Linked DNA regions of Homo sapiens: region 2 is linked to region 1. The links come from fine-mapping of genetic effects on gene expression. Tissue or cell type: testis. Region 1 holds a variant in brackets; the other region holds the start of a gene. All regions are shown on one strand. Distances are from middle to middle.

Region 1 (14,742 bases):
GCTTACCAAAGCGTTGGGATGATTTTTAACCTTTTTTTTTCTTTGAGATGGAGTTTCACTCTTGTTGCCCAGGCTGGAGTGCAATGGCATGATCTCAGCTCACTGCAACCTCCGCCTTCCAGGTTCAAGCAACTCTCCTGCCTCAGCCTCCTGAGTAGCTGGGACTACAGGTGCCTGCCACCATGCCCGGCTAATTTTTGTATTTTTAGTAGAGATGGGGTTTCATCATGTTGGCCAGGCTGGTCTTGAACTCCTGACCTCAGGTGATCCACCTGCCTCGGCCTCCCAAAGTGCTGGGATTATAGGTGTGAGCCACCGCACCCGGCCGATTTTTAATCTTATGATGAGTAGTACTGTTGTTGCAGGAGATTGTGGTGGACTGTGAATCCCGATGATGGTTTCTTATAGAACTTTTCCCTCTTCGGGCCTTAACACTTCCAGGAAGATGAATGTTGAGAGACTGCTCCATGTTCTTCTTTTATGTTACCTAAACTGGTGGAGCTGAGAGCCAGATTGGCTCCTCCCTTCATTAGGTCAGCCTTGCAGGGAGCTCCTCGATGCCTGGTAAGGAAACTTGTTTGATGTCAGGCAAGAACATAAGTGACTCTTGTATTCCTTTGTATTGGGGTAGAGGAGGAAAGGGAAGCGGAGAGGCTAGATCACACATTTAGTGTGTGTTTAATGTAAGGCTATTACATGGTTTTCATTCTCATGCATATCCACAGATTGGGTATGGGAATTTGAAGCAGGCTGGGGTGCTGGGGGAAGCCATAGTCTATGGTGCAGACACACTTAGTAAGTAGAGCAAAACCAGAGACAGTGGTTTTCAGGGATACTTTATTGACATGAACAAGGAGTTTACTGAAAAACAGCACATACAGGCATTACGTTGTTGAGGGCTTAGGTGGTCAGGAACATTTCCAGAGTTTGGATTGTGTTCGATGGCAGTTCACAAGCCTGCAAGCACTCGGCCTTCAGCGGCCTCCGTCTCCATCACACACACTGCTCAGCAGAGGCAGCTCTTGCCAAGCCGTGACGCAGGGAGGAAGCACAGAGCATTGCTGGCTCTGAGGGTCAGCTGGCCTGGGATGGAGACCGAGTTTGATATATAAATCAGACTTGCTTGGAAGTGCTTATCTCCTGCGTCCTGCTGCAAACTCAACTAAGGGGGAGGAAGTGGGCTGAACTAATCATGAGCTGTCCACCAGCTGAGATTTTAGAGATTAAGTAAGGTTTGGATGATGCTGCTTTTCAGACCTGTGACTGCATGGCACACTAAAGGTCTAGGCTAGAGCTTGACAGAGTGGGTGCAAAAAGATGTTAGTAGAATGAGTGGATGATCAGACTGGCAAGCACACCAAGCACTATTCAGATACATTTGCAGTGACTAGGTGAATTCACTGAATTAGGGATTTTTCATTTACAAAATGAGGTGAGAGGAAGGCTTCTTTTGTTTTTGTTTTTCATTTTTTTCTTTTTTCATTTTCATGTTAAACTGGGAAAGGGGAAACTAAGATATATTCTGAAGTGTGTCTAGCTCTTGCTTCTCTTTCTTCCTGCAAAGATGCAGTGACACAGCCTTTTCCCTCAGATTTATGTGAGGAGGACTCACAGATTCTGAGATGGATGGAATTTCTTTTTTGATCCAATAATTTTGGGGAGAGAGGAGGGAGTTGCTGTCTCCTACTTCCCAGCACATTCCTGCTTTGAAAAGTAACTTTCCTAGTAATATTTCTAGTTGGACATCTAAGGAGAAACCTGCAACTCAGAAGGAAGTCTGGGTGTGTGGGTGTCTGGGAATGGAGAAACTAAAAGGTCATGCCGTTAAACAAGTGGTGAGAATAAAGGCTGGGGTAGGGACAGGCAGGGAGTGTTTGGGTTGGGGCTCTGATTCAAGACCGAGGTGACAGTGAAGGTCAGCAGGGCAAGGTGCTCTCAGGGCCAACTGGATTGAGCAATCACATTCATGGCTGTGAAGTAGTAAGAATGGGAAAATCAGATTGAGCCAAGCTTGGCCTTTAGTGAATTGTGTTATTGAGGATCAGACATGGGAAATATCCAGCACCAAGACAACAGATGGGGTTTCTAAAGTGATATTAATAGCCCTTGAGAACTCTTCTAAGCCCTTTAATAAGCAACATCATGCCAGATAAAGCTTCCAGAGAAACAGACATCTAGTCTGGGTCTTTCGTAGGATTATGGGAAGAGACAGGGAGGTGGGTGGAGATTGGAAGTAGGCTGGTGATCACAGTACCTTATTGATTTACAGTCATTATCAAATCTCCCAGGAAGGAGTTTAATTGCAATTCAGGAGAAATAATGATGTACAAACCAACTAGAAAGAGAACCAAAATAGGACTGACTCTCAAAGCACATTGCTAGCATCCACCAAAAAGCAAAGTGGTAGAGAAGCAGTGAGTGGGATTAGGGGTGAGAGAAGATGGAGAACATTAGGACAGGCAAGATAGGCAATGGTTAGATGGAAGCTAAAAAATAAGAAAAGGAAGCAGCTATGGTCTAAGTGGAAAGAGAACTGAAAGAGGAGTCAGAAGACCTGGATTCTTGCTGTCTACCTACCAGCTAGGTTTCCTTATAATTTAGTAAAGCTACTTAACCTCAGAGACCCTCAGTTTCTTCTTTTGTAATGTGACCTCACAGGACCAGTTATAGAGAAGAAATAAAATAGTTAAGTGAAAATACTTCGTAAACCATATAGTTCTAATGAAAGTGTCAAGAATGAGAAGAATGGAGAAGTTAGAAAAAGGAAGAGTGGGGAAGATAACCTGTCAAGGATAAATAAGTGATAGATACCATTCAGCTTCATTAAAAGCCACGCAAGCAGCATCTGAGTTGGGTTTTTTTAAAAAGAAGAGAAAAAGGCAATCATGCATACTGCCGGGTTCAACTTAGATACACGAGCTATTGGGCCACCGAGGAAAACGGTGTGGTAGTAAGCATCTTGCTACTACCGCAAGCTGGTGGCATCCATGAGCTATGGGACTGGAAAAATTTCACACTGAGGCCAATTTTTCTAACTATAAAGTTAAAAAGGTCTATATCCTCTCCCTTATTTCAGAGGGATTGTGTGGAAAATTACCAATAAGAAGAGTCTTGAATTTATTGCAAATATTTTCTTCAACAAAATCAGACTCTTTAATGTGTTAACGGTCTGGTTTTGGGCCAGGCACAGTTGCTCAGGCCTGTAATCCCAGCACTTTGAGAGGCTGAGGCTGGCAGATTGCTTGAGCCCAGGAGTTCAAGATCAGCCTGGGCGACATGGCAAGACCCCTGTCTCTACATAAAATACAAAAATTAGCCAGGCATGGTGGTGCATGCCTGTAGTCCCAGTTACCTGGGGGCTGAGGTGGGAGGATTGCTTAAACCTGGGGCAGTTGAGGCTGCAGTGAGCTGAGATTGCACCACTGCACTCTAGCCTGGGAGACAGAGTGAGAATCTGTCTCAAAAAAATAATAATAAATAAATAAAAATTTAAAAGTCTGGTTTTAAGTACTTTCCTAGGGATGGAAGAATGAAAAAAATGAGCTTTTAAGGTAAAGCCCTAAACCTATGGAATATGGTCTTTCCCTATAAAGGGAGGTCCCAGGTCTGAGGGACCTCTCTCTCGCTGAATCCCAGTCACCTTCATCTTCTTACATTCCATAAAGCATCTTTCCCCTCTCTTGTCCCTGGGTGCTGAAGGATGTCACACTTGGACCTGTCACTTAATTAAAATGAAACACGAGATATTGACTAAAGTTTTTTCCAGTTTCTCTGCTCCCTCAAAATCTAGGGGAAAAAAATCTGAAAATTATGCATTCATAGGCGAAGTATTTGGAAAGCACCTACCCATCCCTCCCCTCTCACACTGCTCATTTACTTATGATCCATCTCAGACTAAACATTTTTCTTAGTTTAAATATCAGTCTCAGATGCACTCTCCTTTTGGAGGATATTTCAGAGTCACAGATCTTTACATAAAGGAAGTTCTTTAAGTCTACCTCATGTTCTTCTCCCTGCTTTTTTGGCCAATTTCTAGTCATCTGAATCTATCAGAGTTGACCTCAGCCCAGTCCGTGCTTGTGAAAGAAGCATTGCCATAGACAAGTTCAATGTCAGTCTTTTCAGAAACAAAGTTATCCACCGGGCGCAGTGCCTCACGCCTGTAATCTCAGCACTTTGGGAGGCTGAGGTGGGTGGGTCATTTGAGGTCAGGAGTTCAAGACTAGCCTGGCCAACATAGTCAAACCCTGTCTGTACTAAAAATACAAAATTTAGCCAGGCGTGGTGGTGCACACCTGTAATCCCAGCTACTGGAGAGGCCGAGGCATGAGAATTGCTTGAACCCAAGAGGCAGAGGTTGCAGTGAGCCGAGATCACACCACTGCACTCTAGCCTAGGTGACAGAGTGAGACTCCATCTCAAACAAAAAAAACAAAAAACAAAACAAACAAAAACATCCATCCCAGGAAGTGTAAACTGGGCAGCACCTAAGGCTTATTTCTGCTCCAGTTTATCCTCTTAAGCCTCTTATTCAGTTGAGCCCTGTATGAGTCTTAGTTGCCTCCTGTATGTAAAATGAGGAATAATACTGGTGCACAGAAATTTTGAGAGGAAGAACTCAGGAATTTCAGTCCTAATGCCCAGGTGGTGTGCCCACAGGGAGGGCACACATACATTATCGCAATAGGATCAGGAACGTGTCCAGAAACATGTTGCATGACTTTTTAAGAGCCACTTAAATTACCATTGGTCCTTCCCAAGTCTCCTGTCCTTGTCTTCTTGGAGGGAACCTTAGAGACCCATCAGGATCTAGCTCTGGAGTACTAAGCTCCAGAGAGCATGTTAGTCCATGCTTCAGGATCTTTCTGTCACTGGAGAACCTAGACAGGCGTGCTTCACTCTGATGCTGTAGCAAAGTGGGCCATGAACCTGACAAAACTGACTTCAGGGAATCCAAGTTCATGACACACTTTTGCTTTAACCCGAACTAATCACTCCTGCTTCCTTCTATTAAGACTTCCATTCTCTTGCAGTAATGGAGAATGAACCAGTTCCAGCCAGTTAAGGGCAGAGGGAGGTGCTAACTCCAGCACTTGTACAAAGTCATTTGGAGCACAGGGGAGAAATCCAGTTGGCTTTGGAGTGTCTTGTTGGAAAACTAGGAGAGGGTGAGGTTGAGTCTATGTAGAAATGTTGGCTTCTCAGTTCTGGCAGAGTCTTATGGTGCGTAGAGGTCTGATGGAGTTAGGGAGTCAGAGGTGAAAGCTCAGAGGCAGGTGGATGTATGGATGAATGAATGAACAGAACAATGGATGCATGAAGGGAAGCGATGGGGCCCTTGGGGCGCCCTCCTGATGCCATTGACATTGCTGAACATGGGATGTCCAGTCCCTCAGGTGTTCAGGCCACCTACCAAAGATAAAATAACTCACTGAGAATTTCCCACCCAGTCCAGCCCAGCCCAGCCCAAAAATTCTTTGACCAAAGAAGGGAGTTGGAGAATCCTGTGCCTCTGTTACCATGGGCAAGTTCAGATTGCCTCGACACTCAGGTCAAAGCAGTTCACCTTCCGAAGCGCTGACATCATACAGAGCTTT[C/G]TGACTTAAAGAATTACCCTGAGGGCGGGGACCCCAGGCAGGGTAGACAGTGACCTAAGGGACCAAATTTAAAGTCACTTCAGTTGTGGGCAACAAAGTCACTTGTACAACCTGCCATCCACATCTGCCTTCCCCTCCCATGTTCCTGTAGGTCACCTCATGTCACACTGCTCCTGTTCTATTCCTCCACTGGTACCGCAGAGTTCTCCTTGTTCTCAGATGGGATGGCAAGGTAGTCAGACCTATAGAGGACACAGGGAAAGGGAATCAGAGCTTCAGTGCCCAGCGTGGGAACACAAGATGGGGAAGGAGCAGGGCACAGGAGCAAGGATCTACAGAACAGCTCTGCATTTCCTTCTGCTGTGTTTCTCAAGAGAAAAACAACCTTTTCTGCAGATTAAAATAATCATTTCCCCCATATATGTACACGAACACCCACCAGGAGTGTATAGCTTCTCATTTATCCAGGTTGTCTTCAGCATTTAGTTAGATTATTATGTTGGCCAAGGCTCATGCCTCTAATCCCAGCACTTTGGGAGGCCAAGGCAGGAAAATTGCTTGAGCCCAGGAGTTCAAGACCAGCCTGGGCAACATGGTGAAACCCTGTCTCTACAAAAAATACAAAAAACTAGCCTGGCATGGTGGCACGTGCCTGTAGTCCCAGCTACTTGGGAGGCTGAGGTGGGAGGATCACCTGAGCCTGGGAGGTCGAGGCCATGATTGCACCACTGCACTCCAGCCTGGCAACAGTGAGACCATGTCTCAAAAATAAAATAAAATGTTGGTCAAAATGACAGCTGTGAAATTATATTTTATAGTTGTTTCACATGTTTACAGGCTATTTGGGTTTCTGCTTCTGAAATTTGTTCATCTGCTTTCCAGTTCTTCTGAGATCTTTGTCTTTTTCTCATTGATTTTCCTTTGATGCTTTCATGTTTTGACAATTTCTCCCAATCTCTTGTTTGTCTAGGAATTTTGCTTATGGAGTCTTCTAATGAACAGCTGATTCTTTACATATAATGTGATCAAAATTATTTTTCCTCTTGGATTTGTGCCTTTTGTATTTTATTTGGGAAATCCTCTCTATTGCATGGTGATAAAGAGAGTCTCTTATATTCCCTTAATGGAATTTTCAAGTTTGACATTTTACTTTGTGTTTAAATCCCCTCATAATTTATTTTGGTTTAGTATGAGAGATGGGGAATCTAATTTTGTTTTGTGTTTTTCTTTGTTTCTATATAGATTAGGAATTTTCCCTAGACCACTTACTGGGCAGTTCATTCTTCCTTCAATCACTGTAACGTCATCTCTCTCACATATCAGGTTTTCCTACATGCATTAACCTGATTGGTGGCTTTTTGTTTTGTTTGTCCATTTCGTATGCCTGTGCAGTATCACAAACTCTGTATTCTGATAGCTCTGTAAGAAACCTTCATCTGGCTGGGCGCAGTGGCTCACACCTGTAATCCCAGCACTTTGAGAGGCCAAGGCGGGTGCATCACGAGGTCAGGAGATTGAGACCATCCTGGCTAACATGGTGAAATCCCGTCTCTACTAAAAAAATACAAAAAATTAGCCAGGCGTGGTGGCAGGTGCCTGTAGTCCCAGCTACTCGGGAGGCTGAGGCAGGAGAATGGCGTGAACCTGGGAGGCAGAGCTTGGAGTGAGCCGAGATCGCGCCACTGCACTCCAGCCTGGGCAACAGAGCGAGACTCTGTCTCAAAAAAAAAAAAAGAAAACAAAGGAAACCTTCATCTCCGATAAGACAAATCCTACCAACCTCTTGCAAATTTACTGCTCTTTCTTTGAAATGGTTTAGACCGAGGGTGGGCAAACTGTGGCCTAAGAGCTAAGGATGGTTGTTTGCAAACAAATAGAAGAACAATACATGACAGGGACCTATGGCGCCTGCAAAGCCTAAAACACTTATTATCTGGCTGTCCCTTGGTTAAGACTATTTTTGGCTACTTAGCCTTCCATGTGACTTAATATCAGCTTATTAAGTTCTTTGAGAAATCTAATGGGCATTTTGATTGGGATTTCATTGAATTTGAAGATCAATTTGGGAGAAAATTGTTTACAATTGTGAGGTTTTACTCTCCATCTAGTTACGTTTAAAGTCTTTCAGTAAAGGTTTCTAACTTTTTCTTTAAATGTCTTGTATATTTTTGTCAAATTTATCCCCGGAACTGGGGAGTACTTCTTGCTATTGTAACTTTAAAAGCATTTTAATATTTTAAATATTTAAATTTGTTACTAAATTTGTTGCTGGAATATAGGTGATTTTTATATTTTGATTTCTATCAACAATTTTGTGGAATATTCTTCCTTGTCCTAATAGTATTTTTGTAGATTCTCTTAGGTATCCTATGTAAATAGTAGGTATAGATAATGATAATTTAGTTTCTTCCTTTCCAAGTCTTTTTCTTCCTTGTATTTACTTGGTCTTCACCTAGGATTTCCAACACAATATTGATAGAAACAGGGAGAGGCAGTCTCCTTGATATGTCCCTGATATTACAGGCACTTGAGGTTTCAACACATAGATGATATTTGCTGTAGGGTCTCTTAGTAGCTGCCATTTATCACTTTAAAGATGCTTGGTGTTTAGGTGTAGATGTATTTTATTCATCCTGCTCAGGGCATATTATGCTTCTTGAATCTGAAGAGTCATCCCTCCCTCAGCCGTTCTGTCTCTGAACACTGTCTCTCCTCCATTCTCTGTTCTATTCTGTTTTTTTTTTTTTGAGATGGAGTCTCGCTCTGTCGCCGAGGCTGGAGGGCAGTGCCGTGATCTCGGCTCACTGCAAGCTCCGCCTCCCAGGTTCACGCCATTCTCCTGCCTCAGCCTCCTGAGTAGCTGGGACTACAGGCACCCGCCACCATGCCCGGCTAATTTTTTGTAGTTTTAGTAGAGACAGGGTTTCACCATGTTAACCAGGATGTCTCGATCTCCTGACCTCATGATCTGCCTGCCTCGACCTCCCAAAGTGCTGGGATTACAGACGAGAGCCACCGCGCCCGGCCAAAATGATGCTTTCTTTATCAAACATTTCTAACTGGTAATAGCCTAGACTGTTTTCGGTTTGCCTCAGCAATGTTGCTAGAAATCTGTGGGTTTTTTCTATCTTTCCTTTCCCCAGACAACCAGCCAGCATGATCTCTTAAGACTCTTTGTTCTTACAGACCCCACCGTTTCTCAAATGTGCTCACCCTCAAGTGACTAGAGTCTCTGAGCAAATGGCTAAGGTACAGGCTGGACTTTAGAGGATTAGAGTCCCCACTCTGGACATCTAAGCGCTGCCAGGCTCTAGGGGAAATAACATGTTGCTTGGAGCTCCTTTGCTAGCAAAGGGCAGTGCCCAGATGGCCTGAGGAGCTCCATGGTATAAAGCAAACAGTTCAATGAGATAGAAAGAGCATGGACATTAGCACTAGAGAGACCTGGGTTCAAATCTCAGCCTTTCCTCTTACCATCTGTGTGCCTTGGTAAGCTGCTATGAGTCGGCTTGGCATTTACAGAACGGTTATAATAATGTTACTTTTTTGTTGTGTTTTTGGGCTTTTATTGTTGTTGTTTTTGAAATGGAGTCTCGCTCTGTCACCCAAGCTGGAGAGCAGTGGCACGATCTCAGCTCACTGCAACCTCCGCCTCCCAGGTTCAAGGGATTCTCCTGCCTCAGCCTCCCGAGTAGCTGGGATTACAGGTATGTGCCACCATGCCCAGCTAATTTTTTATACTTTTAGTAGAGACGGGATTTCACCATGTTGGTCAGACTGGTCTTGAACTCCTGACCTCAGGTGATCCTCCCGCCTCAGCCTCCCAAAGTGCTGAGATTACAGGCGTGACAGCCATCATGCCCAGCCATAATAATATTACTTTAACGGGTTGTGGTAGCAGCTGATGGTCTTTGCCTTAGTGGTTAAGTGTGCTGGCCAAGAATCAACAGGCCTGAATTCAAACATCACTTTGTTTCCTAAGTGATGTTTGAATTAAGCAAATGTTTAATTTTTCGTAATGAATTAAGAGTTTGCCTTAAGCCAACTCTCCGAAATTCAGTGTTCTCATCTGTAAAATGGGTATAATAATGGTGCCTATCTCTTAAGCAGTGATCATGAAGAGGGTGGAGGATGAATGTAAACTGCTTAGCACCTCACCTGTGAGAGCAAGCATTCTGAAGGTGCTAGCTTTCATTATTACTTTGGCATCTCTGGACTTACGCGTTTTCTTGGGCTGCCTCTTCGGCTTTTGAGACCTTTCTGTAGCAATATATCATCTCGATGAGCAGCCACAAGGTGAGGAAGACCAGAAGGATGTACATCATGATTTCTGAGACCACAGAGGTGAAGTCCTCTCCAGCTGAAAGAAAGAGAATGAGGTTCAGAATATGCAAATCCAGCAAACCTAGAGCCGTCATTGGAGCCATATTTTTAAGTACAGCTTAAATAAAGACTGAGTAAAGAAACTCAAGAAGATGTCAAAGGTATTCCAAATCCTGACTCTCCCGCCCATTGGCTTTCTCACTGACTGTCATCAGCTGCTCAGGAGCCAGGGAAGAGGGAGTGGGATGCCTGGAAGAAGTAGCCGAGCAGTGGAAGGAATCCTGGCCTCAAAGTGAGATATCTAGAGCTGGCTGTCCATTTTGCTATTTACAGGTGTGTAAACAACCATTTCCCTTACTTGAGACTCAGTTTCTTAATTTGTAGGTTGAGGATAATAACACCAGTCAGGGGTTTGTGAATATTACATTATCTAATGTATTTCAGAACATCTTGTGAGATTAAAAGTCTACACAGATGTAAGGAACATGCCTTATTTCAACTGCCTCTGTCTTTTGAGCTGCCGGTGGTGGAGGGTGGTATTCCTGGGGAGAGAGCGTTGGAAAACTCATTCAGGGCCAACAAAGACAGCCTCCATGAGATATGCGCATGTTCTCTACAAGTCTGGGTTAGAAACAAGACCTTCCAGGTCATCCAAAACCAAACATAAATATTGGAGGATTTAGTGTATCAACCGCATTGTCCCCAGGGCTGTACTTTTGAAACACAGTTAGGATCCTGCCATTTCCCTGCTGAAAACTCTTCAATGCTCCACACTCCCCTTAGGATGAAGCCCCAACTCTGTTCACGTGACATGCAAGGGCCTTCACAATCCGGGCTTTCTCACCTCATTTCCATTTGGTTGGCCAGAAAAACTTCTGCTACACACTGTGGTATGTTAGAATCTGTGAACTTTTCTTCCTCTTCCCTCTTCCTGAATTGTGTCTTTCACCCACGGCTAGTTCTGTGCTAATATCCTCTCCTGCTTTGCAGTCTCGCAGTAGTTCTAGATTCCTGTGAGGTCCCCTCCTTTGTGAAACCATCCCCAACTTCTCATGCGGAGCTATTCACAACCTTCTCCGTGCACTTTTCTTTTCTCTTTTTTTTTTGAGATGGAGCTTTGCTCTTGTTGCCCAGGTTGCAGTGCAGTGGCATGATCTCGGCTCACTGCAATCTCCGCCTCCCAGGTTCAAGCGATTCTCCTGCCTCAGTCTCCCAAGTAGCTGACATTACAGGCACCCACCACCATGCCCAGCTAATTTTTTATACTTTTAGTAGAGACGGAGTTTCACCATGTTGGCCAGGCTGGTCTCGAACTCCTCACCTCAGGTGATCCTCCTGCCCTGGCCTCCCAACGTGCTGGGATTACAGGCGTGAGCCACCGCGTCTGGCCTCCATGCACTTTTCTCATCCATCTGTTATAAGAGTTGTATTGTGCTTATCTTTCTTTTCTGTGGACTGTGTGCTTATTGAGAACATATTTATTTCTGGATTATCTGCCTGCTGTATAAATCTTAGAATATTTAAAGTGCTCAATAAGTACTTATTGAATGAGTGAAAATAAATATTATCTTATTTGTTTCATGATCAACAAAAAGGACCATTAAAACATACTACATGGCAGATATCCTGATATATCTACTCCTTGCTAGTGGGAGAAATGTTGTAGCCACCTCTCCCCTTGCCAGCTCTCAACAGCAAGTCAGATTTATGATCTGCAGTTATCCATTGGATCTAAGTCATCCCCAAGTCCTTGGTTGTTAAGAGCACAGCACAGCCTGCCATAACTTTCAGCCCAGAGAGCAGTCCGAAGGCTCCAGGATCACCCAGGTTTCCAACTGGAGCTAGAGGTCATAGATGCAGCGTGAGGCACATGAGAATGCCGTACAGCTCAAACATCTCACCGCCTTGCTACCACCTCGTGCATTATTTATGATTTGTTTGGCTTAAAGCATGCTCTCTCTTTCAAAATGCAGTAGCCCACAAATGGCAATACAGGAAGCTGTCCTCAGTATTTTTAGTTACCTCTAGGTGAAGAGGCCTCAGGTTTCTGCCTTAGGGCCAGGAGGTGACAGCCAAAGCCAGAATAAACCCAACTTGAACAAAGAGAACCAGGGAGACCTTGTGGGACCACAGGAATGGAGGAGATGTGGGGTTGATGGGCAGGTGTCATGGTGGGGTGGGTGCGTAGCTCTGAGCAAGATGAGGGCAGGGAGTATCTGATGTCACAGAGGCAAAAAAGAAAAAGTGGCAGGGGGTTGGGGTGGTGGGGGTGGGGAAAGAAACAGTGGAAAGCAAGCCCTCCAGACAGGCGAACAATCTGGATTTTCACCCTGCTTCCAGCGCGAATTTGCTGCACGTCCCTGAGCAAGCCCCTTGCTCTTGCAGAGAACTCTGTTCTCCCAGCCACAAAAAGAGGGGCACCAGAGCTACACCCTCCAATCACCTGGGGAGTCATCAACTTGCATATGACCTCACTCACCCCTGCCGATCTCACACCTGCAAGGGTGCTGCAGAGGTGTCTACATCTGGAGGACGCCAATGTGGGCGATTCTGATGTCTGCCCTTTATCCAGAGGCCCTGGATTAAATAAATGATATCCACGCTTCCTTCACACCCGACCATCCACGAGGCTCTGTGGCTCTGATAATAAACTTGTTTTTCCTTCTGTTTTTACCCGAGGCTTGCTCTGGTACCTGGCAGACGAACTAGCTCAGCCTTGCCACACTTCCCACCAGCTATGCACGAGGGTGTCTGGAGGCAAAAGCCCGAGAGAGCAGAGGTGGAGACGGCTGAGCACTGTGCTAAGGTCTGGCGGGCACCAACCAAAAGTTCCAGATGGTGACCAGGAGAGGGCGCCAGGGCCCCACCCCCCAGAGGAAAGGCGTGTAACAAACGGGGGATAAAGGAACTTCAGAACAGGGGAGTACCTCAGAGAGCCCCCCGCCAACCCCTTCATTTCACACCAGAGGAGCGGGGCTCCGAGCAGGGAAGTGACTCATCAGGTCTGGATTCAGGAGCCCTGAGAGTCCCTCTGCACTTTCAGAATTGACCTACCTTCCATTTTAGTCATATCGTCTGATCCGTTATGTCTCTTTCTCCTTTGTTCATTCACTCTGAGGACTGAATCTCCGCTTCATTATTTTTATCACAACGACATGATAAAAAATGAATAAACCTGTGGCCTGGAGGTTGGGATTCCTGGATCCTTTTTTCTAGGAAGAGCCCTGTCTTTAACTTGATCTTTTCCTTCATGCCCCACACTTTGGCCTGCTCACTAGCAGTGATAATGCTGGAGATAGACTGAGAAAGGCTGGAACTCCCCCCTCAGGATGCAGGACTCCGGTTGCAACAGAAACACCTGAGTTAGGCTGCTGAAAGGCCTTCCCACTCACGAACACGGAACTAGCTGTAGGAGTCCAAAGATTTTAAACAAGACTAGAGAGCTATCAACCTGTCCCCTTCTCCCAGCAGGGAATGAATTTATGTAATAAGAGATGCCACAGATGGGGAAGAGGTTGCACGTGTGATTACTGTGAAGAAAGACAAAAGAAAAAAAGATTGTCAAACTTTGGTTTAGAGAGAGGTTCTCAAGGTGTGGTCCCAGCAGCAGCACTGCCCGCCAGGCAGTGTGTCACGCAGTGCAAACTCTCAGGCTCCACCGACAAAAGCAGAAAGGCTGGCTTCCAAAAAGCCCTGCAGGAGATTTTGAGGTTTGCTAAAGTTTGAGAACCCCTGGCTTAGAGGCATGTATTGCTTACAGGTAGAAGGAGAGATGACTTCCGGGTAACCTCATGAGATTTCTCTGAGCCCACTGAGTCAGGGATTCAACATAGGCCAAAGAAGAAGGCCTAGCTGAATCAGTAGCTTTAGGCCTCATGGAGGCTAGCCTCTTTCTCTAAGGGACCAGGAAGAGCTCATTCTATCATCTCCAAGCCTTTCTGCTTTGAGGAAAGGCACAGAAAGACAAGCTGCTTAGGGAATTTACAGGAAGCTGGCCACCAGAAGAAGATGGGTCAATGGTGACATTTTTAGATGTCACCATTCCAAATACATGGGTTTTTGCACTCTTTAAGGGCCTCACTCGTGGAAAACTGCTGTCCTACCCTTCCCTGTCCACAGAGAGCAGGACGCCCTAGAGACCCTGTGCCTCAGCCTCACCCTCCTCGGTGACTCTTAGGGGGATCAGCCGCGTCGTCTTCACAAAGGGCCGATGCGCCTCAAACTCAAACTCCCGGGACACATTGCAGGTGTAGAGGCCAGAGTCGTTCAGAGTGACGTTGAGCACAGTGATGGACACGTCCTGCAGGTCCTTGCTGCCATTCCACTGCAGGCGCCCCTGAAAGGGGCTCTCCACCTCCTGGTGGCCATTCCGATACTCGTAAATCTGCAGATAGAGGAGCAGAAGAGGGTAGGGCCAGGAAAGGAGATGGCAGTGGGGGGAAGCCGAGTTAGGGACAGGGCAGAGAAAAGGAGCAGAATTGTGCATGGACAGGGAAGAGAGGGGACAATGCCACCGGGAGACCCAGAATGTGGGGGTGGGATGAAGAGGCACAGAGGAGGGTAGGGAAGGGAGCAAAGACAGGGAAGGACAGGCAGAGGCAGCAGGCATCAGGGCATGTGGACGTGGTGAGGACAGAGGCAGCCACGGGCGTGTAGGAAGAAGCTTGGCAGAAAAAAAGGGGTGGAAAGAGGGAGAACAAAGGCAGGCGGGAGAAGAGTATGGGAGCCCAGGAGACGGACATTGAGAGAAAGACAGGATTGTAAAAAGATAGAGAGAACAAGAGAGTAAGATGTGTCCCAGAGCCGCTGGCAAGAGAACAAG
Region 2 (16,873 bases), 19 kb after region 1:
TGGCCTGGGGAGAAAGGAAGAGAAGGATGGTGAAACATGAGGCTAGAAAGGTAGGCAGGGCCCATGCTGTGAAGACCTCTGTGTGTCCCTTCCAGTGTGAGGTATCCAATGTTTTAAAGTCGTGGAGAGATGTAATTGTATCTGTGTTGTGTGAAAACTGTAGGTAATTCTGACACATGGTGGAGGTTGGAGCAGCAGTGAAGAAAATGGCGAGCGGACCACTAAGCTGGAACAATGGTCTATGCAGAGGAGTATAGCAAGGCAAGTTAAAATCTGGAGCGGGGTCAGATTGTGGGACACCTTGCATGCCACACAGAGGTCTAAGACTTAGTGTTTCTGCCCTCTAGAAACTTGAAGTCTGTTTTTTAAAAGGAGGCAAGTATATCAGCTTGATAATTCAGAATAACTTGAGCGGGACAAGGCTGCCAGCAAAACATGCGCAAATGTGAGCTGCATTAACAGATGTACAGTACGCAGGAGGAAGGAGGCGTAGTTTCTCGGCACTGTTTTTGGAACAAATCTGGACTATTATGATCAGTTCAGGATGTCACATTTTAAAAAAGGAAGTTGTTCAAAGAGTGCATGCCCAGAGGTGAGGGAGATGGTGAAGGATCTGGAGATAAAGTCTGGTGAGGAAAAAATGGGAGAATTCGAGTTGCTTAGCTTGGACACAGAACATATCTGTCTTCAAATATTTGAAGGCTGGCAGATGGAAGAGAAATTTGATTCTGCCCAACCCTAAAAGTTATAAGAAAAAAATAAGTTTAATGCAATAAAGAAAGAATTTTATGATTTTGGAGCTGTTCACAAATGCAAATAACTAAATGCTAAGAGAGTGTACACAGCATTGTTTGGGATATTTGAAAGTAAGACGAGGCCAGGTGCTGTGGCTCACACCTGCAATCCCAGCACTTTGGGAGGCTAAGTTGAGAGGATTGCTTGATGTTAGGGGTCTGAGACAAGCCTGGGCAACATAGTGAGACCCCTGAGTCTACAAAAATAAAATAAAATAAAAATTAGCCAAACATGGTAACACACAACTGTAGTCCCAACCACTCAGGAGGTAAGAGGATTGCTTGAGCCCAGGAGTTTGAGGCTGCAATGAGCTATGATGGCACCACTGCACTCCAGACTGGTTGACAGAGTAAGACCCTATCTCTTGAAAAAATAAAAACAACATGATGGTCACCGCAGATTCTTATATTAGGACTTTGAAGATCCCTTCTGATGCTACTTTTTCATGAATTAATAATAAAAACAGAACCCCCAGAAAAAAAAAGAAATAATACACACTACATTTAAAAACTAGTCCACTGTTAATGGTCAGCCTGTTCATCTCCTGGCAGAGCGTTCTTTCCTAAAAGCAGAGGAAGGTTTTATTTAGAGCTTAATAAGACACTGCCATAAATTAATTTTGAGTCCAAAAACTGTGTTTGATTGACTTAGAAGGCAATGTATTTATTTTAAAACATGGAGTTTAAAAACTAGTGGCACTAGAATTAACTTAAAGTTGTAAACATCAAGGTAAAATAAATGTAATTGGGTTTTCAACTCTCCAGCAAGCTGGGTGAGTCTTATCTGACAGTCTTCAAGAGGACCTATTGCTTCTGCAGATGGTGAGCCACGTTAATGGAGAGAGGACTCACATCTAGGGAGAACTGATCAGAAACATCTTCAGCATATGATGAGTCTGAAGTATTGATTATAGATCTGATTAAACAAAAAGGAAATGTGGTTTGCGCAAAAGTTTGTGAGTGGGCAGAGGGGTAGAGCGTATGCAGCAAGAACTCCGTGTAGTATGGAACCTCAAGGCACATTCATATTTAATGAGAGCTGGCAAAGATAAATTCATTCATTTCATGTTGACAAACTCAGAAGTGGACTAAGAAGTCTCAAGGAATGCACAGTTACAATTATAGAGGCAGGGTGAAGATAGAATCTGGCAACTGAAGAGTTGGGTTTGATGTACTATGTAATCTCTCTGGACTCAGTTTATTCATCGACATCATGCTGAAAGTTACATCTGTCTAGTAGGTTTATCATGAGAATTTTATGGATTAATTTACATGAATGTGCTTTGTACAAATGTCATTATTCATGTTATTCTATCTTTCGTTTATTTCCCAAATATACTGAGTGCCTTCTGGGTGCCAGGCATTATTCTAAGCACGAAGAATACACCAGAGAACAAAAGAAAAGAATCCCTGTTTTATGGAGCTTACATTCCAATGGAGGGAGAGGGAAAACAGCAACATTAAATAGTAAAAAGTGCTGTGAGAAAAAATAAAACAGGAGAGAGTGTGTGCACAGGGTCATTGGAGGATGGCCTTTCTGAGAAGGTATCATTGAGCAGGCGCTGAAGAAAAGAAATGAGGATACAAGCTATACACATATCTGTGTGAAGGCATGTCAAACACAGGAAATTGCAACTCAAGGGCTCAAGGGGCCCAAAGGAGTGTGTTTGTCATGCTCAACAGACAGCAAACAGTCCAATGTGGAAATTACAGCAAACAACGTGAGAATAGAAGGGGATGAAGTAGTAGGAGGGATGGGGAGGGCCAGATCACAGCAGGTCTTATTGGCCATGTTAGAACCTTGGCATTTGCTTAGAGTTTATGGCATTTGCATGGAGCAGCAGAAGGTTCTGAGAGGAAGAATGATGGGATCTAATTTGTACAAGATCATATGATCTGATGCTGTGTTGGGAATAAACTGATGAAGTGAAAGGGACAAGGGTGGAATCAAAACAGTTAAGAGGTCTGGTACAGGGATCGGATTGGAAGACGATTTTGTTTTGGTGAAGATGACAGTAGAGCTGGTGGAGTTTGAAAGAAATGAAATGCAAGAAAATGATTTGCTGGATTAACATCTTTGAAAAGGTGAGAGGTGATGTGCTCTAGTGAACAAGTAGATGGGATGGCAGAGATAGAAGCATAGTTAGTTCATTTATAGTTAATGGAGGGAAAGCAGTCAGGATGGCAAATGGGGTATGGCAGAAAGTGGGGTAGCCCCTCTCTTTTCTTGGTTGCCCCTAAGGCAACAATAATCCAAGGTATCATCATAGAGCAAGTCCCACTCCTTCCCTTCTGGTCAAAATCTAGTTTCAGGGCATGAGAACTCTGCTCGTATGATCCTGAAGAGTACATTGAAAAATGGCCACAAAGTTCCCCCACCTCTGTTTGCTTGCCTTTTGCAGTATGACTTGCTGCTCCTTGCTTCAAGAGGTAATGTCTGTTTCTCCATCCTTTGAGTCTTCAGCACACCACTGTCTTTCTTTCTTTCTCCTTTCTTTTTCTTTTCTTTCTTTTTTCTTTCTTTCTTTTTTTTCTTTCTTTCTCTTTCTTTCTTTCTTTTTTTCCTCTCTCTCTCTCTGTCTCTGTCTCTCTCTCTTTCTTTTTTTTTTAGATGGAGTTTCACTCTTGTCACCCAGGCTGGAGTACAATGGCATGATCTCAGCTTACTGCAACCTCCGCCTCCTGGGTTCAAGCGATTCTCCTGCCTCAGCCCCCTGAGTAGCTGGGATTACAGGCACCTGCCATCACGCCCAGCTAATTTTTGTATTTTTAGTAAAGACAGGGTTTCACTATGTTGGCCAGGCTAGTCTCAAACTTCTGACCTCAGGTGATCTACCCACCTTGACCTCCCAAAGTGCCGGGATTACAGACATGAGCCACAGCACCCAGTCCACCACTGCCCTTCTTTCTATGAAACCCTCTAGGTATTCAAAGAAGGCTGTAAATATGGCAGGAGCTCAAACTACATTGCTGACTAAAAGTAACAAACTCTTGGAATAATGTTGACCAAATCATTTGACCTTTGTTCTTCTCTTCAATTCCCATAATAATAATGAAGAAATTTATGAGAAGGAAAAACATGATTATTAATAATGATCATATTTCACTAGGGAGTAGTAGCATCCATCTATCATGAGGCAGATAATAAAGAATTATGAACCAGCTTCTCTGATACCCTCAAATCTTTCTCTTCTTTGGACAATGCCCAATTTTTCCTCCTGAGATTGCTCTAGAATGCTTTCCTTTGCACTGAGATAATGAAAAATTTGATTAGAATATAAACAATTTCCAAAAAGGGGTAATAAATGAGGTTATTTTTAGATGCTGACACCCTGACGTGACTTGTTCTGTCAATTTAGCTGGTCACTTAGGGCCTTGAATAGGATGCACGAAAGATCACCAGGGGAAGAGAGGAAAACACACAGGGCAACTAGAAGGGCAGGCCTGGAGAAGAAGGGCAGAGAAGGTACTAGGTGCTAGTGAGTGAGGCCCTAGGACAGGTGATGGTGTTGGGGAGAGATGGGACGGTAGCTCAGAAGAGAAATGGGAGGACAGGTGCCCTCCTGGCGATTGTGCATAGTAGCACATGTGTCCATGAGAGGTGCTAGAAGGAGCACTGGAAGACTGAAATCAGAAAACAAGGGTTCTCTAGCAAGTCCTTTCCCTTCCCCGAGCTCATTTTCTCATCTCTAAACTGGAAATAGCACTCTTTCCCCTGACTACCTCAGGGATAGACATGAGGACCAAAACAAGCAATGTATTGAAAATTACATTGTAAACTGTGATGCACAGGCAAATATAGGGTTTTATTTATTTATTTATTTTAAAGGCTGGGCATGGTGACTCATGCCTATAATCCTAGCATTATGGGAGGCTGAAGCAGGAGGATTACTTGAGCCCAGGAGTTAGAGACCAGCCTGGGCAATATGGCGAGACATCGTCTGTATTAATTTTTTTAATACAATTATTATTATTTTATTGTATTAATTATTTATTGTATTAATTATTTATTGTATTGTATTATTTTTTAAATCTCTTTAAAAAATAAAAATTATTACATGCTTTAACAAAGGAAATAAGGAAACTTTTTTTCATGCATGCAGAAAGTAAATGGAAAGACTCTTTCCCTTCATATTGTACATCATATTAAAAAATCAACTTTGGAAGGGGGAACACATCTAACCCAGCATTATTGTTCAATATTGGAATTGCATGCAAATCAAATGAAATTGTATCTGTGAAGGGCGGCTGTTTTTCTTTCTTTTTTTTTTGATGGAGTCTCGCCCTGTTGCCCACGCTGGAGTGCAGTGGCACAATCTTGGCTCACTGCAACCTCCACCTCCCAGGTTCAAGCAATCCTCCTGCCTCAGTCCCCCTAGTAGCTGGGATTATAGGCACGCACCACTATGCCCGACTAATTTTTGTATTTTTAGCAGAGATGGGGTTTCGCCGTGTTGGCCAGGCTGGTCTTGAACTCCTGACCTCAGGTGATCCACCCGCCTCGGCCTCCCAAATTGTTGGGATTACAGGCGTGAGCCACTGCGCCTGGCGAAGGGAAGCTGTTTTTCTTACAGTTAACAACCAAGTGTCCTGAACCACTTCTCTTTCCCTTCCACAGCTTTTCAGTTTGGTGAGACAACACTCAGTTTGCAAAGAAACTGAGAATGGGCAAAGATGGGCATACTGTGTACACTTCTTCCAAAGTTTTTTGGGGTCGGGGAGGGGATGGGCACTCTGTCAATTCTAGCAATATTCTTCAAAGATTTCTCTACCATTCATCTGTGGAGCTGAAAAGGATGTTAGATATCACCCGTGCCAACTTCCAAACATTACACAGAAGGAACCAGATAGCACTTTAAGGTTGTTATATAGTAAGCTAGTGGCAAAGCTGAGACTCCAATGCAGGTTGCACAAGTTCTAGTTAAAAGATTCTTGGATGATAGCATGTTCTCTCCCTCCACTGGAATTCAGGCAGGGATCTCAAAATCTTAGATTAGAGTTCAGGAAGAAAGTCTCTGCAGAGTCTCACTCCAACCCTTATCCACAACTTCAGCTTTACCGACGCTCTTTTTATCTGGCCAGGCTAACATCTTCTAAGCCTCGTGTCCTCAGCCTTAGCCTCCCCTGAGAAAATTTCAGCCTTAATCTTCAAGGCAGGTGAGATCATTGGCAACATATTATAGCTGCTCCATCTCCAGGTCTGGTCTACTCTACTGGGGATGGCTGGTGATGAGTCCGCCTTTGGGGCTGACATTACCTCCCTCCTCAACCTTCCTAGTCCGTCTCATCAGGCATTTTGACAGGAAGCTTGGCTCTGCCTCTGGTCACATGCAAAATCCAGATAATGCTGGCAGCTAGAGTTAGTCCTGGAGGCTTGAAAAAGTAATACTAAAGCAAAGAGGCAGCTCCCATCAGCATGTCTGCCACCGTATAGGCAGGATGAGTTTCATGCCAACCATGGGAACATAAGCTCACATGCCTCGTTTCAGGGAGGCAGGTGGGTACAATTGTGTCCAATTACCCTGTGTATTGATTTTTGCACGGAGAAAGGTAGCTAAGATCATGTAAAGCAATCTGTCTGCTGAAGAGAACCTATATTTTATCTGAGGATCTAATCATAGACACCAAGGCAGACATGCCCAGAACTACCACCCCCACCCCTGCCATACACATACTACTACACTCACCCATGCATTCAGATGTCTATGCCAACATGCTCACACACATGCTAGTGCACACATCCAGACACTGAAATATATTTACATACAGTAAAACATTGTCTCAATCACACAATCAGACATTATCACATAGATCAATCCCCTTTACACACATTCAGGCACTCCAAGACCGTCTCTGACACTCTCTTCAGCCTTTACTGTTCCAAGTGTAAGATTCCCTTATTTGGAGGGGGAAGGTCACCTCAGTTTCTCACAGCTGACAAGCAAGAATCTATTCACCTTTGAAGGCAAAAACCCAGCTCTCCTCCCCTAACACCAAAGCATCTTAGTTCCACAGGTTCATGCAACAAACAAACAAACCAAAAAAAAAAGAAGAAGAAGAAAAAGAAAGATGCATTTCACAGTTGCCTATTTATTTAATATATAGCAGTAAATGGCTGAAGGCTGTTTTCTTCCCATTCCTTGTTAAAATTAAGAAGATGATGAGCAACTAAAGTATTTTCACTCTCAAAATTCATGCATCCAGCTTTTATGGTTTTTTTTTTTTTTTAATATACAGAAACGAATTTGAAGACCCAGTAAGCTTTCCAGGAGTATAGACTCCTTGATGAGAAATAAAATGTAACCACACAGGAGGTTTTTATTCGTGAACGTGACTGCATTTCCTTTCAGCAAAGGGAAAGGGAAAAAATACTTTGGAATGATCAGGAAACTGGAGGAAGGGCGGAAGAACCACCAAAGGAGGTTGGAGAATAGCGGGGAAGGGCGGTGGGGAGGCGCCTTTCCCATCTCAAAATCCCAGCTCTCATGGAACCCCTGCCATCTCCATGTCTGGCAGATACGCACAGAGGCAAGCCAGCCAGAGCTCTTTTCTGTCACCAACGACATCAATGTGTTATTATTGTTAGCATTGTTACTGTTACCTGCATCCGGCATGGCGAGGTGCTGGTACTTACCCCAGTAGATAAGCACGAGAGAAGCCAGGGGAAACAATCTATTGAAGGCAGGCATCTTCTGGGGCTGGCGGCTTCCAAGGCTACACAGAGAGATTCCCTCGGTCAAGGACTGCGCCCTCTCAGATTCTTTCGAGGAAACCCTTTGGGACGAACTGCCCCCAGGGGGCGACTTTCTGACCGAAGGAAGGGCCGAGCACCGGTGCCTGGGGAGGCCCTGGGAGCTTTTGGAGCCGGGTGGGGGCTTTGGGCCCTAAGCGACCCCACTGGACCTCCCCAGTTCGAGGGAGCCGATCAGCCGCTCCGCGCCCGCTCTCGCCGGCGCTCAGCACCACGGACAGTCGCCTCCCCGCCCACCCCGGAACTCCAGCTTCCACTCGCGCCCCTGCCTCGCTCGTTTGCGCCCAGGGTAAGCTCAGCTCGGAAGGGAGTCGCACTGCTGGCCTAGCAGCCAGGCTGTGGAAGGGTCCAGGTTGATTCACCTCTCGCCTCCCCAGGATCGGTTGCGTTCCGACTGGAATCCTCCCAGCCCCGCGGCTCCTGCTTCGTCCGCCCTAACTGCTTCTCCAGCTGGGCGTGACCCCACTCCCGAAGCCGCCGGGGCCGCCCGTCTGGGCTACAGAATGCGTTCCACGTCGGTCCCGTCCACGCCCGCCCTCGGCTCCCTGGGGAGGTGCAGCGGGGCCGGGAAGGAAGCGGCAGCTCCCGTTCGGCCGGCGATGTCAGAGGTTGGGGGGTGGGTGTAGAGGCGGAGCCCCTTCCCGGGAGCTCGCCCCCGGATGGTGCGGGGCCCCGACCCTGGGTGGCAGGTGATCAGCAACCCTTCTCTAGGCCCCCAGGCCGTGTGTGCTGTCAGCCCTGACATGCGCAGGCGGCTCTCCGCCACCACCACCGCCCCGGACCCTCCCCCTAGTGCACACTCCCCACCCCCTGATGGGCGTGCCCCTCCCAGGCCCAGCGCCGCGCCGAGCGGGGGCGGAGCCGGGAGCGGCGCAGACACTTCCAGCCGGGATATCTTTGCTCGCGCGCTCGCTGGTCTCTCCAGGTCTCCCTCTCGCGCCTCCGCACCTCCCCCGAGCTCGGGCGCACCGCCGCCCTCGGCTCACGCCCTCCAGGCAAACCCACTCCGCTCCCGCACGGACTTGCCGGGTGTAGCTCCGGGAAGAGAAGGGCCAGAGCTCTTTCAGGCAATGATGTCATCTGCAAGGCGCGCCGTACGCGGTTCCTGGCTTCGCCTCCCAGACCCCATGCCTTCCAGTTCTCGCTGTCTATCCTTTGTCTAGCCTTGATTAATTGGCCCCGGACACAGCAAACTCAGCAAGATAATCCCTGTTTAGGGCAAATGGGGTAGGGATGAGGCGCACCTGTTCCTGTCTTCACCTCATCACTCAGTGAGGTGATCCAAATGTCAGCGCAAGGGGAGGGGGGCCCAAGAGGACTCCTCTTCCCTTCCCCAGGTTCTTTGCAGTTCTCCCTTTTCCTTTAATTACTCCTTTTTAATAAAGCAGATAGATTGTGTTTGGCGTCTTCCAACTATTAGCCACTCCCTAGTCCTAGCAGCTGTTTGAGTGCCCCCGCCCCATCTCTGGAAGGGAAACCTGAAACTTTACATTCAACTATAAACTCAAATTGACATAACAGATTAGGAACGCCTGGAACTGAAGTAAAAGAGTAATCCAAGAGCCCTTCTTCAGCTTCCTTTTTCTCCTCTTCTGCTCTTTCCAAAAGGGGAAGCTTAACGCTGATATTCCAAAATGGAATAACAGAGCAACAGCTGACGGTGAGTGGACCAGAAGCAGGAAATGCTCCCTCCTGACATCTCACAGAGTAACAGAATGTCCCCAGTCGGATCTTCCTGGGCAGGGAGCCACCAGGCCATAAACTCTGTGCTGTTTGGAGGACTAGGCCTTGAAGCATGTATACTGTGTTAAATTTGGATGGGAAGTTAAAGTTGACCTAATTCAACCGCTTTTCCAATTTGTGACTTCCCCCAAGAACATTTCGGACGAATGGACTTGATTTTATTTATTTATTTATTTATTTATTTATTTATTTATTTATTGAGACGGGGTTTTGCTCTTCTTGCCCAGGCTGGAGTGCAATGGCGCGATCTTGGCTCACCGCAACCTCCGTCCCCCGGGTTCAAGTGATTCTCCTGTCTCAGCCTCCTGAGTAGCTGGGATTACAGGCATACGCTGCTACACCCGGCTAATTTTGTATTTTTAGTAGAGATGGGGTTTCTCCATGTTGGTCAGGATGGTCTCAAACTCACAACCTCAGGAGATCCACCCGCCTCGGCCTCCCAAAGTGCTGGGATTACAGGCATGAGCCACCGCGCCTGGCCTTGATCTTTTTAGTGATGAGAACTTTCTACATCACAAGTTCACCTCTTCTGATGCTTAAGGAAGTTCTTTATGTTCAGTTGAATTCCGTACACTCCTCCTCCCCCTCCAAACTCCATTAAGTGGCCCTAATGCTGTTTTCTCTTTAAAAGAGCTATGCTTCCTCACATCCGCCCTAAGACATTTTTGTTTGTGGCTACTCTTCCTTAGTTTCTTCCAATGTATTTTCTAGTAGTTTCCAATCCTGTACCACCCTGGCTGCTTTTTCAGAAGGACTTTCAGTTTCTCAGCATGATTCTCCAAGTGACGTCCAGAACAGGAACTGATGGTCCCTGTGTGGTCTGACCAGCATAAATCCAGTGGAATTATGGCTACATTTGCTTTGAAGGATATAACTAGTTAAATACATTTACAGCCACATCTTAGTCATAATCAGCTTATGTTCAATTAAAATCCCTGAGTATTCTTCACTTGACTTGTTGCAGAGTCATTGTGTCTTGTACAGGCAATTTTGGAAATTTTATTATGAAACTTTGCACTTATTGCTGTTAAAATTTATTAGTTTCAACCAGTTATCACACTGTGTTAATACTTTTATTGAATTCAGATTCAATCACCCAATATATCTCTCTTCTTTACCCTTGTTTCATCTCTAGGCTTGACAATCACATGATCCACACATGGATATTTAAAAAAAGAACCAATAGAAAAAAAGAAGAGATAGTCCTATGGCCTGCTTCTAAAGACCTCATTCTACCTTGACAATGAGCTACTAATTAACATTTTTGTTTGTTTGTTTGTTTTTTGAGACGGAGTTTCACTCTTGTTGCCCACGCTGGAGTGCAGTAGTGTGACCTCGGCTCGCTGAAACCTCCACCTCCCAGGTTCAAGCAATCATTCCGCCTCAGCCTCCCAAGTAGCTGGGATTACAGGTGCCCACTACCACACCCAGCTAATTTTTGAATTTTTAGTAGAGAGGGGGTTTCACCGTGTTGGCCAGGCTGATCTCAAACTCCTGACCTCAGGTGATCTGCCCGCCTTGGCCTCCCAAAGCACTGGGATTACAGGCATGAGCCACTGCACCTGGCCTAATTAAAATTCTTTAGAACAGTTGCTCAATCATAAAACCCAAACATAGCTCCCTATTTTTTATATGTACAGCATGAGACATTCTGAAAATTTAGAATAAAAGGAATCTGTGAGAGGAATTAGACATCTAGTCATCCACAGGAAAGAAATAGGATCAATGGCTTACACTAACACAAAAACAGATTTTCAGCAATACATTTCAAACCTTTCCAAAGTAGGACAAATTACCTTTCGTTACATCCAAGCAGTTGTTATCCAAACAACTGCTGGGATGTTTAGGAAGGAAAACCTGTAAAGGTTAGAAATTTGGAATAGATTATGTTAAAGTTCCTATCGTCTTTGAGGTTCTATGACTTTATTGAAAGCCTTACCAAGACTGAAATACACAGACAGACTGAAATATTTTCAGTCTGATAATTTTATCAACTACCACAGCAGGAATTGGCTCAGCTTTACAAAATTTTTCTTATGTCTATTCATGTGAATTGCTAATATTCATAATGTTGTTTTCTAATTGTTTATCAACCCCATTGTAAATAGTCACTGTCAGGATTTCACCTCTATTTTTCATATACCACTTCTTCCCTCTCCTGTATTGAAAATAGGAGCATTTAGTCTTTTCATTCTCCTGCTGTTTCCCTTGATTTTTGGCTGTCACTCTCAGTCACTTTTGCAAGTACCTTAAGTTCCCTGAAGTACTCTTGGCCTTGTTCTGAGAGTTTTAAAATCATTTAAATTAAGCTCTCCCTTCCTCTTTTCTGCCATTTTGGCTTCAATCCTTTCTCATTGTTGTTGACTTGGCCTCCCAATTTAATAATCATTCTCCCTTCACAGTTAATGGGTGAAACCATATGCTCTATTCTCCAAAGAGTAGACAGAACAGTCTTTGTATTCTAAAAGATGGGAACTTCTCTTGCTTAAAGCCCTTCCATGGCATCTCACTACACTGAAATAAAATCTAGACTTGTCACCATGGCCTAATGTTGGCCTTGTGCCCTGGCTATCTCTCCACACTCATTTCTACCACTCTCTGTCTTGTCCACCATGTTCCAATTACACTTAATTTTAAAGAAATGTACCTCATAGTTATCAAACTCTTCCCCACTATTAATATTTCCCATCATTATTATTATAGCCTTAGCATTTGATGTCCCCTCTTCCTGGAACATTCTTCATTCTATGGCTGGTTTCTTGTCATTTTGGTCTTGCCTCAAATGACTTCACCCTAGAGTGACATTCCCTGGTCACTCTAAGCTTGTTTCCTGCTACCTTCCTCACCTGAAGCTACTCTCTATCTCATCACCCTGTTTCTTGTTCTTCATATCTTCTCTCACTATCCAAAATTATCTTATTTTTAATATATGTACTTGCTTATTTTCTGTTCCTCCCATCAGGCTGGTTCTCCTTGGTGATAGATAGCAGCCTTGTTTGTTCTGTCTACTGCTGCCGTCCTGCACCTAGATCAGTGCCAAGCAGATATTAGGTCCTCTTCACAGAGGACACAAGTGAATGAATACACAAGGGAGTGAGAATAGTGTGGAAACAGTGAAGAGCTGAGGCCAGAATCAATAGGGGAACAGAAAACCAAGAGTCAGAGAAATAGGAAGAGACCCAGCAAGGTGCAATGCCATGGCAGGCCAGGGAAAAGAGGGTCTTTAGACTTAAGGACACTTCTCCTTTGAGGGGACTTTAGCTAATTATGCTCAGAGATTGAGGAAGAGGATGGAGTACAGAGCCTAGATATTCAGGGATCTTGAGGTGGAGGGAATGACATGACTCTGCTGAAGAAAGAATTGAATGGGAGCTATTCAGGGAGATGTTAGTTTTCTTGTGGAATGAAACACATTCACTGAGACTACTGGGGAGGAATTAGAGACAGGAGCAGTGGAAGTGACATTGTAAGTAAAGATAAGGTGTGGGACCTTAAGAGACACACAATGATCTTGGTAAAGTAGGAAGCCACATTTTCCATTGAGTGTAGGTGGTAGGGAGGTACAGGAGAACCCAGGACAAGGGAGACAGTCTGAATAACTGAGGGCACCTTCTTAAAGCATAGAAAAATGTCAAGAAAAGCTTTTCAAGATCAACATGTACCTGAACTCAGTCAAGATGCAAAAATCAGAGCCCAACCTAGGAAAGTCAAGTAACCTGCTTTTGCTATTCGAAGTGGATTTTGAAAAATAGTGCACACCCCATGGGACAAGGAAAGGGAAGAAATATGTTCATTTTAAACTGTGGCCAAAGAACACATATGGGACTGAGAGATATCAGGCTCTTCCAAATCATTCCCTCATCCTGCCAGCCAGCTGTGTGATGTTGTCACCAGGCAAGGGAAGTTTGGGATTAGAATAGGAAGCAGTGACATGATGATTAGATTATGCAATTCCTTCCTGGATTTGCAAATGGCACAGAACCTGGCAGGTAAGATGGGGCCAAAAAATGTTTGTTGAAATGAATTGGATGTCACCTGACTGATTGTGGAAGCCAACGCTTTCCTGACATCCAGAAGAGCCCTGCCCACCTCCATAACACCCTGTGCACAAAAGAAATGCCATCTGCTCTTGACCAATCTCTAGAAAGTCCATGGTTCTGCCTCAGCCAGAGCACTATTTATGTTTAGTTTTGATCACCCAAACGTGTAAATGGAAATAAAGAAAATATTATCAGTGATAAAGTACTTTATGCTACCCAGAAGCAAAGTTATAATATATTTCAAGTATTGTTATTAGCATGGCATAATTTTTTAATGCATTTCTGGCATGCATATGGCTGAAGCTCTTAGGATAGGCAGAAAGAAAAGATGTGTATTGTTTAATTTTTCACACTGCTATAAAGAACTGGCTGAAACTGGATGATTTATAAAGAAAAGAAGTCTAATTGACTCACAGTTCTGCATGGCTGGAGAGGCCTCAGGAAACTTACAATTATGGCAGAAGGCAAAGAGGAAGCAAGGCACGTCTTACATTGTGGCAGGAAGTGGGGTGGGGAACCACCACACACTTTTAAACCATCAGATTGTGTGAGAACTCACTCACTATCACGAGAACAGGGTGGAGGAAACTGCCCCCGTGATAAAATCACCTCCTACTAGGTCCCTCCCTTGACATGTGGGGATTACAATTTGAGATGAGATTTGGGTGGGGACACCAAAACAAATCATATCAAGATGTCTTGTAGAAATAAGCACAGTCATTATCTTTGGTGCTGATCAAAGTCCTGTTGTTGTTCCAAAGTTTTGGGCAACAGCAACATTGAGCCCTGATTGACTCAATGTTTATAAGCAATATTATTGAAGAAGAAAATGAAACCACAAAATGAGGGCCAGGTGGTAGACAGGAGGCCTGTGTCCCATGCTTAGTGCTGCTCTGAGATAGTATAGTATTGACCTTTTCACCTAATCTCTCTGAACAAATTCTCTCTCTAATTGTCTGCCTCCCAGAGTTGCTGGAAGCACAAGGGAGATAATACGAGTGTGTCTTGGATTTTGTCAAGTCCTATAAACCAAGAAGTGTTCAGTTCCTATTTAGATAATTTTTGAAAATCCTTACAGAGATAGGTTCAGCTGTTAACTTCAGCATAATGGGAAATAATCAGCTTTCATAATCTATCATTAATCTGTTATCATTTTCATCATTATCATTATATTTAAGGGCATGCATTGGCCCCAGAACAATGATATGCATATATTATTGATAAATTGATAAATTTATTTAATCATTCTAACAATTTTAAAAAGTAGGCACTATTAGAATTCTCCTTTTTTTTTTTTTTGAGGGAATAAATACAAGAGAAGTTAAATGACTTAGTTACTCAAGTGCATGGGCAGAACCATAATTGAAACCCGATTTTTTGTCTCCAAAAGCCTTAAGATCTTAATATCTTTCTTTAAGATCTTCATCATTGAAAGACACTTCCATGTGCACATCAGCCAGGAAGTTAACGACTTGTCGTATGTTGTGCAGTTCTCAAATGAGTGTGCTGTGTGTATTTATGTGTGAGAAAAAGTAGGAATAATTCCTTTACTCATAAAACTTCTAGTATGGTGGGAAAGTATAAAATCTAAGAAAATAGACATGGGAAAATCCAATATGTTTTGTGTTCTTTCTTTCTTTTTCTTTAGTGCTTAAAATTTGGAGATCTCACATGGATTAACATGAATGAAAACCTCTTAGTTGTTTTTCTGTTTTCTGTAAGCAACTGTTTAGCCTCATCTAATATAAAAGTTTTATTTTTAAGACACACTATGTATTAGTCTGTTTTCATGCTGCTGATAAAGACATACGTAAGGCTGGGCAATTTACAAAAGAAGGAGGTTTACTAGACTTACAGTTCCACATGGCTGGGGAGGTCTCACAATCATGGCAGAAGGCAAGGAGGAGCAAGTCATGTCTTACGTGTATGGCAGCAGCCAGAGAGCTTGTGCAGGGAAACTCCAATTTTAAAGCCATCAAATCTCGTGAGGCTCATTCACTATCACAAGATCAGCACAGGAAATACCCACCCCAATAATTCAATCACATCCAACTGGGTTCCTCCCACAACACATGGGAATTGTGGGAGTTACAATTCAATAAGAGATTTGGGTGGGGACACAGAAAACCATATCATTCTGCCCCCTGGCCTCTCCCAAACCTCATGTCCTCACATTTCAAAACCAATCATGCCTTCCCAACAGTCCCCCAAACTCTTAACTCATTTCAGCATTAGCTGAAAAGTCCATAGTCCAAAGTCTCATTTGAGACAAGGCAAGTCCCTTCTGCCTATGAGCCTGTAAAATCAAAAGCAAGTTAGTTACTTCCTAGATACAATGAGGGTAGAGGCATTGGGTAAATACAGCCATTCCAAATGGGAGAAACTGGCCAATACAAAGGGCTACAGGCCCTATGCAAGTCATAAATCCAGCAGGGCAGTCAAATCTTAAAGTTTCAAAATGACCTCCTTTGACTCCATGTCTTACATCCTGGTCACGCTGATGCAAGATGTAGGTACCCATGGTTTTGGGCAGCTCTGTCCCTGTGCCTTTGCAGGGTACAGCCTCCCTCCCAGCTGCTTTCATGGGCTGGCTTTGTGTCTGTGGCTTCTGCAGGTGCACAGTGCAAGCTGTCAGTGGATCTACCATTCTGGGGTCTGGAGGATGGTGGCCTTGTCTTCCAGGACAGGTGTGTCCCATTTCCTCTGCATGATTGTAGGAAGCACTCCTTACAATTTTCCCTTTCTAAGCATTTATTCCATGACTTAACCCACCACCACTACAACTGCCATCACTCAGATATACCAAAACTTGGGTAAATAATTATCTTTCTTGTTTATATTGATCTTTTCCAAGCTCACATTTATTTCCATTTCTACTATTGGAAGTGATTTGGGGCTGGGCACAGTGGCTCACGCATCCATCTGTGGTAGGGGACCATCTCAGGTGGATGGTCCCCTAGTAGGGACTCTGTGTGGGAGCTCTGACCCCACATTTCCCTTCTGCACTGCCCTAGCAGAGGTTCTCCATGAGAGCCCCACCCCTCCAACAAACTTCTTTCTGGACATCCAGGCATTTCCATATATCCTCTGAAATCTAGGTGGAGGTTCCCAAACCCCAGTTCTTGACTTCTGTGTACTTGCAGGCTCAACACCATGTGGAAGCTGCCAAGGCTTGGGGCTGGCACCCCATGAAGCCACAGCCTGAGCTCTACATCAGCCCCTTTCAGCCACAGCTAGAGCAGCTGGAACACAGGACACCAAGTCCCTAGGTTGCACACAGCATGGGACCCTGGACCTAGCCCATGAAACCACTTTTTCCTCCTAGGCCTCAGGCCCTTTGATGGGAGGGGCTGCCATGGAGACCTCTGACATGCCCTGGAGACATTTTTCCCATTGTCTTGGGAAATAATACTCTGCTTCTCACTACTTGTGCAAATTTCTGCAGCCAGCTTGGATTTCTCCTCAGAAAATGGCATTTCCTTTTCTATCATATTGTCAGGCTGCAAATTTTTCAAACTTTTATGCTCTGCTTTCCTTCCAAAACT

Alleles and levels. Positions count from the first base shown, and alleles are read on the strand shown. Sizes are in standard deviations (SD) of each study's normalised expression.
In carriers of allele C in region 1, the expression in testis of the gene that starts at base 8,306 in region 2 tends to be lower than with G alone (large effect, 0.88 SD a copy in GTEx).

Evidence for each region. PIP is the estimated chance that this variant, and not a neighbour inherited with it, causes the effect.
Region 2: SCN3B starts here. The variant in region 1 is fine-mapped to the expression of SCN3B in testis (GTEx, PIP above 0.99).

What each region holds. Positions count from the first base shown.
Region 1 is chr11:123,628,368-123,643,109 of GRCh38, forward strand. It overlaps SCN3B (sodium voltage-gated channel beta subunit 3), which reads right to left. Exons shown (of 7, transcript NM_001040151.2): 4 at 14,079-14,304; 5 at 9,819-9,957; 6 at 5,754-5,839; 7 at 821-5,409. The coding sequence ends at 5,776. It overlaps LOC124902777 (a long non-coding RNA gene), which reads left to right and starts at 10,172. Exons shown (of 2, transcript XR_007062929.1): 1 at 10,172-10,253; 2 at 12,600-13,107. The variant C/G (reference allele first, on the strand shown) is at 5,598.
Region 2 is chr11:123,646,319-123,663,191 of GRCh38, forward strand. It overlaps SCN3B (sodium voltage-gated channel beta subunit 3), which reads right to left and starts at 8,306. Exons shown (of 7, transcript NM_001040151.2): 1 at 7,908-8,306; 2 at 7,429-7,508. The coding sequence starts at 7,483. It overlaps LOC105369543 (a long non-coding RNA gene), which reads left to right and starts at 7,367. Exons shown (of 3, transcript XR_948124.4): 1 at 7,367-7,834. RefSeq lists silencers at 7,690-7,759, 8,320-8,549.